Homo sapiens: one gene and its partner. The protein of the gene in region 2 purifies or fractionates together with the protein of the main gene of each other region. This does not show direct contact. Each region holds a gene or a part of one and is shown on either strand. Other genes may lie near its edges.

Region 1 (3,500 bases), on a different chromosome or scaffold from region 2:
ACGACCTGGACTTGTCCCCAGGGAGCAGGTGGAGGGCAGTTCCCACAGGGACGCACTGCGGGTACGACCTGGACGTGTCCCCAGGGAGCAGGTGGAGGGCAGTTCCCACAGGGATGCACTGCGGGTACGACCTGGACTTGTCCCCAGGTGCCAGGGCCAAGTAAGAAGAAAATGTGCCTTCCTTCCTATTATACCATTTTCTGTTTTGGTCTTGTTCTCTTGATAATATAGGTAGGGAAACAGAATCAGCAATTATTAGAAGGCCACCTCTACTTTGTCCTTAAAGGAGTTGGCAATGGTTTGACCAGAATCAAAGAAGTATATATTTTGAAGATTAAGAGTTTAAAACAGTTTAAGAAAAAAAAAATTTATAGGTACCATTTAGCTTTCTAGTTGAAAACCAACACATCTGCCTTTGGGGTCAGAAGCAGCTATATCTAGGAGAGGGATACTCCTCTTTATAAAAGATGAAGGAGTTCTAAGGAGTTTATCAGGTCAAAAGACATTCCTTACATTTTCTGGATGGCATCCTAGTAATATTACAACAGTAGTATCTAACTCTTGCTAAGTACTTAACAAGGTGCTGGGTAGCAGTCTAAGGGTCCCATGTCCAATTCAGTAGCCATGGCAACTCATAGTTATCACATAACTAATTATATGTGGCTTTCAGCCTAAAACTTCCTAGAAAATAAAACTAAAAAAATTAGAAACAATATTATAAATGCAACGGAAACTATACAGGCAATATCCTATTAGTGTATCAAAATTTTAACAAACTAAACACAGTATTAAATTGCAATTTTTTTTACTTTTCAATAAAATACTTGCTAAACAGTCTTGTCTGAAATTATAAATTGCCCAAAGTTAACCATAAATGAGTCATTCTATTGAATTTAACAAACATTTAACTTTGCAAGAAATAAATTTTTATTTTTCTTCATTATCATACAGCATTTAAGAATAATAAATCTGTCTTGAGGTTTCAAATCTGAGATATCTATGGCAAGTTTATAAAAAGTACATTGATCAAGGTACAATTTTTAACATTAATATACACATTCCATAATCTCATCTATTTAACATTAACACAGGCCTTTGTTGTTGTTATTTTTTTCTCCCTACAATATTTCCTGACTCTGTAGGACAGTGGTCCTCAGTTGGGGGTTGACTCTGTCCCCTAGGGGCATCTGGCAACATCCGGCATAACTGTGGGTGTCACATGAGAGGGACGCTGCTCACCATCCTGCAATGCACAGCACAGACCCCACCACAGGGGTTTTATCCAGCCCAAATGTCAACAGTGTCAAGTTTAAGCAACTCTTACCGAGTGGGACTCAATTCCCATTTTATGAACACCTCTGTGCTCACTGTAATTCTGAAAACACAGACTTTGCTAACTGGTAAATACTATTTACAAGAAGATTCAACCTAATCAATATCACTTATCAAAAGCAGTGGCTGACTGTAAGTATCAACATGTTTCCAGAATGAATAAACCACACAATCAACTCAGAATGATACAAATTAGGGTCCATATCATTTAATTTCCCTTGAACCTGCTCTGCTAGTTTAATCTGCTAATATGAAAGTTAATTAAGACTGTTTTGAAGGAGCGAGACAATAGTTTCCTTTGCACATTTTTCTGAACTATGAGAAAAATTTAATGATACATAAAGCACCTGGCAAATAGCAAGTCCTCTGCAAGTGCTCCGGAAATGTTTATCACAGCCTACTAAAAACAGAGTTTCACTCATTTGTTCAAATTTCCCATAAGTATGTATCTGCAAAGATTAAATTAAGTTTTATTTGCTCGCTCTCATTTTACAATAATCTCTCACAAATGTCGCTTAGAAACAGAACACATATCCAGGGTGTGTGATACAAAATTATAAGTTAGTTTTTTCCACACAAGTTTTAAAGTATCAGTGTATATAATACATTAATGATAGTACCAAATGATAGAACTAAATTTAATGATAAATTAATGATAGAACTAAATTTAAAAGGAAAAAGTCATTCTAAGTTTGTTAAGCAGATAAATTTTTCTGTAATCATTTACCTACATATTCACATTCTGTATATTTTCTCATGGTCAACAAACTGATTCAAATGATTTAAGTTATCCCACCATTTAAAGAGAAAAGTCGCTGCAATAATTTTAAACCATGGCGTTATCTTAATTTCACCACTGGCTGCTTTTTTCAGAAGTTCTTTTAGTTCTTCCTTTGACACATAACAATAGCTTTTAATCTCATTGGGATCTGGATTCAAAGTTACATTCTTCCTCACCAACAAAATGTAATCAATTTCATGTTCACCCCAGATACCATCAGACTGAGCTTTGTAGTGAATTCGTGTTAAATAATTAATTTCTTCTGGAGGAACCTAAGACATTAAAAAAAAAAAAGTAATTAAAACATCGGCCACCGTAACAAAAAAAATCTAAAATTAGCTCACTGTATTACAGCGATATCTCGAACAGCAGTATAGTTTTAGGATTAGAACTTGGTTAAAGCATTAATCTCCTATCAATGGTATATGGAAATCTTAATATTATATATGGAAAAATGATTACATCATTAGTTTCAAGTGTTTGCGTTTTTTTCCCGATCAGATAAGTTTTTTTTTTTTTAATGTTAAAAAAAGGGGCAGTCACTCAAACTAGAAATGTGACATTCTTCTTTTTCTTCTTTTTTTTTTTTTTGTGAGACGGAGTCTTGCTGTCACCCAAGCTGGAGTGCAATGGTGTGATCTCAGCTCACTGCAACCTCCGCCTCCCAGGTTCAAGCGATTCTCCTGCCTCAGCCTCCTGAGTAGCTGGGATTACAGACGTGCCGCCCCACCATGCCCAGCTAGTTTTTGTATTTTTAGTAGAGACGGAGTTTCACCATGTTGGTCAGGCTGGTCTCGAACTCCTGACCTCGTGATCCACCTGCCTCAGCCTCCCAAAGTGCTGGGATTACAGGCGTGAGCCACCACGACCGGCCCGACATTTTTCTTTTTCATATTTTAAAATTGCTTTTTGGAAAATATAGATAAGAAATACTTTATTTATCCAGGTCTTATTTAAGGGGGACAATTCCAAGAAAAAAAATGATTTCAATTAAACCAATGAGATTTATGGTTCATATTCCTAAGAGTTTCCATCAGAAAATCTTCACCTTTTTTGTAGGTGGGGAGTTTTAGGTGAGAACTGGAAAACCTGTCAGTTAAATTCTACAAGAGCTGTAACACTTGAAAATACTCATCTTAGATTTGATCAATTATAGAAATATTCAACCTTATATAGTGCTTAACAGATCAATCCATCCCCGTATTGAGCTAAGTTTTGACAAGTGATATTAAGAAATTAAAATTTAAATAATCTTTATTCAAGATGGTTTGTGGGGCTAACTCATAACTCCGGAGGTTACCAAGCAGAGAACTACATTTGAATTTAAAAATTTTATTAAAAACCTTTTTATAGTATGTTTAGGTTTCAGCTTGTATGGTTGTGTAGG
Region 2 (3,500 bases):
AGCCTGTAATCCCAGCACTTTGGGAGGCTGAGGTGGGCGGATCACGAGGTCAGGAGATCGAGACCATCCTGGCTAACACGGTGAAACCTCGTCTCTTCTAAAAAATACAAAAAATTAGCCGGGCATGGTGGCGGGCACCTGTAATCCCAGCTACTTGGGAGGCTGAGGCAGGAGAATGGCATGAACCTGGGAGGCGGAGCTTGCAGTGAGCTGAGATTGTGCCACTGCACTCCAGCCTGGGCGACAGAATGAGACTCCGTCTCAAAAAAAAAAAAAAAAAAACAAAACAACAACAACAACAACAAAAAACTTTCGTTTATTTGAAACACAGACAAGGATTATCTCTACATTTCCCAAAGTGTGTTCTAAGAAACACTAGTCCCCCATAAGGCACTATGAGAAAAGGGTTCAGGGGTTCAGATAACCAAATGCAATCTGTGTGTTCCACATCCATATATTCAAGCAACCTTGGATGAAAAATATCCAGAAAAATAATTCATGGTTGCATCTGTACAGAACATGTACAGACTTTTTTTCTTGTCATTATTCCCTAAACGATACAGTATAACAATTATTTACATAGCATGTACATTGTATTAGGTATTATAAATAATCTAGAGATGATTTAAAGTATACACAAGAGGGGCCAGGTGAGGTGGCTCACATCTGTAACCCCATCACTTTGGGAGGCCGAGGCAGGCGCATCACCTGAGGTGAGGAGCTTGAGACCAACCTGGCCAACGAGTGAAACCCCATCTCCACGAAAAACACAAAAATTAGCCAGGCATGATGGTGCATGCCTGTAGTCCCAGCTACTCGGGAGGCTGAGGCAGGAGAATCACTTGATCCTGGGACGTGGAGGTTGCAGTGAGATGAGATCATGCCACTGCACCCCAGCCTGGCAACAGAGTGAGACTCTGTCTCAAATAAATAAAGTATACGAGACGATACGCTTAGGTTAGACGCAAATACTACACCATCTTGTATCAGGGAGTTGAAGATCCAAGGATTTGGTATCTATTGGGGGCCCTGGAACCAACCTCCATGGATACTGGACAACTGTACAAACGGACAGCTGTATCTATGATTCCTCTCTCGGAAACAACACGTACATTAGCAATCAAAGGTTCAAAGAAGTTGGGCACAGTGGCTGCTCATGCCTGTGATATCAGCACTTTGGGAGGCCAAGGTGGGAGGATCGCTTGAACCCAGGAGTTCAAGACCAGCCTGGGTAACACAGCAAGACCCTTGTCTCTACAAAAAATAAAAAATTCGCCAGGCATGGTGGCACATGGCTGTACTCCCGGCTACTCAGGAGGCTGAAGTGGGAGGATCCCACAGGAGTTTGAGGTTACAGAGAGTTATGACCGCATCACTGCACTCCAGCCTGTCTCTCAAAAAAAAAAAAAAAAAAATAGCCGGGCACAGTGCCTCATGCTTATAATCCCAGCACTTTGGGAGGCTGAGGTGGGTGGATCACTTGAGGTCAGGAGTTTGAGACCAGCCTGACCAACATGGTGAAACCCTGTCTCTACTAAAAATACAAAAATTAGCCAGGTGTGACAGTGCACGCCTGTAATCCCAGCTACTCGGGAGGCTGGGGCAGGAGAATCACTTGAACCCAGGAGGTGGAGCCTGCAGTGAGCCAAGATTGTGCCATTGCACTCCAGCCCGGGCAACAAGAGCAAAACTCCATCTCAAAAAAAAAAAAAAAAAAAAAAAAAAAAAAATCTCAAAGAAGCTCTGCAGTAGAGAAATCCACTCCAACTGGATAACTTGATGTTTCCATGAGGCTCTGATTAGAGACCACTTTCTCCATTATTACACCACAGAAAATGCTGACCTTTGCCAAAGATCAAAATCAGTTCCAAAAGTCCCCTGGCTCTAAGTCTGACTCAGAAATAACATTTTAAGGACCTCAGGCGTGTGGGTCCTTCAGAGCCACCTGAACTCAGCACATCTCACTCCCTTCCCCACGGCAGTGAACCCTCTGCAAGCCCACATCCTTCCCAAGCTACCAGCTTCGAAAGCCATTAGTAAAGAACAGACACCAAGCTGAGCCAGTTCTCCAGCCTGTGACACGGAGATGCATGACCCCCCACTGCCTGCGGGCAGGCCCAATTTACTCCAGCATGTGGGCTGCCCCTAACCCGGATGGACGCTCAGCTTGCTGGTGCCAAATGAAATCCCCCTTTCAATTTCCACTTAAAAATCTCGCTAAAAGGCCAGGCATGGTGGCTGATGCTTGTAATCCCAGCACTTTGGGAAGCTGAGGCAGGTGGATCACCTGAGGTCAGGAGTTCAAGACCAGCCTGGCCAACATAGTGAAACCCCATCTCTACTAAAAATATAAAAATTAGGCGTGGTGGCACACGCCTGTAATCTCAGCTACTCTGGAGGCTGAGGCAGGAGAATCACTTGAACCCAGGAGGTGGAGGTTGCAGTAAGCCCAGATTGTACCACTGTACTCCAGCCTGGGCAACAGAGATGCTATCTCAAAAAAAAACCAAAACAAAACAAAACAAAAAAAACCCCACAAAAATCCCATAGCAAATCTATCAACCCCTCTTCCTGCTGTTTTTAAACCAGCTTCCTTTTCTGCGGTTGTGTGGGTTTGGCTGGGAAGAGGGTGTGATGTGGATAAAAACACACTGTACTGTAGAATGTGTGTAAATGCTCAGTGACACAATGCAAACGAAACCAGTATCTCAAATGAATATGCCCGAACTGGGCACACTGCCTTCCCCCAAAACCACCTCCTTCTTCCCCCACCCCGCCCCCTCCCGAGTGTTCCCCAGAATGAACCACATCACAGCCCCCGTCACCCACGCCTAAAACCAGGGCATCATCCCAGCCCCCTCTCTCTCCTATGCCCTCATGTCTGATCGGTGCTACCTCCTAAATCTTTCTTTCTTCTTTTTTCTTTTTTGAGATGGAGTCTCACTCTGTCACCCAGGCTGGAGTGCAGTGGTGTGACTCAGCTCACTGCAACCTCCGCCTCCCGGGTTCAATTGATTTTCCTGCCTCAGCCTCCTGAGTAACTGGGATTACAGGCATGTGCCACCACACCCAGCTAATTTTTGTATTTTTAGTAGAGATGGGGTTTCACCATGTTGGCCAGAATGGTCTTGATCTCTTGACCTCGTGATCCGCCCGCCTTGGCCTCCCAAAATGCTGGGATTACAGGCGTGAGCCTCCAAGCCCAGCCTTTTAAAAAAATTTTTGTGTAAACAAGGTCTTACTATGTTGCCCAGGCTAGTCTCAAACTCCTGGACTCAAGTGATCCTTCCACCTCCTCTTTGACCTCCCAAAGTGCTAGGATTCCAAGCTTAAGCCACCACAGCTGGCCAGTCACCTACATTCTAAAGACAGCTGCAAACAAGTAACCCAATCCAACCCTCACAGCTACCCTAGCCACAACCCTGCGCCTTCTTCCCAATGTGACTAGACTAGGAGCAAAGGCAAGTTTCAGGAATATGCAACTGTCAAAACGGACCATA

Evidence for each region. Proteins that work in one complex are often made in the same cells at the same time.
Region 1: the proteins of STYXL1 (region 2) and IDI1 purify together in Homo sapiens (affinity purification with mass spectrometry, with the first as the bait; one large-scale study listed by BioGRID). This does not show direct contact.

The regions. Positions count from the first base shown.
Region 1 is NC_000010.11:1,039,120-1,042,619, forward strand, and holds the end of IDI1 (isopentenyl-diphosphate Delta-isomerase 1), read right to left. Parts: intron 2,386-3,500; coding exon 2,068-2,385; 3' UTR 300-2,067; downstream 1-299. UniProt on the Homo sapiens protein: Catalyzes the 1,3-allylic rearrangement of the homoallylic substrate isopentenyl (IPP) to its highly electrophilic allylic isomer, dimethylallyl diphosphate (DMAPP).
Region 2 is NC_000007.14:76,006,501-76,010,000, forward strand, and holds part of STYXL1 (serine/threonine/tyrosine-interacting-like protein 1), read right to left. Parts: intron 1-3,500.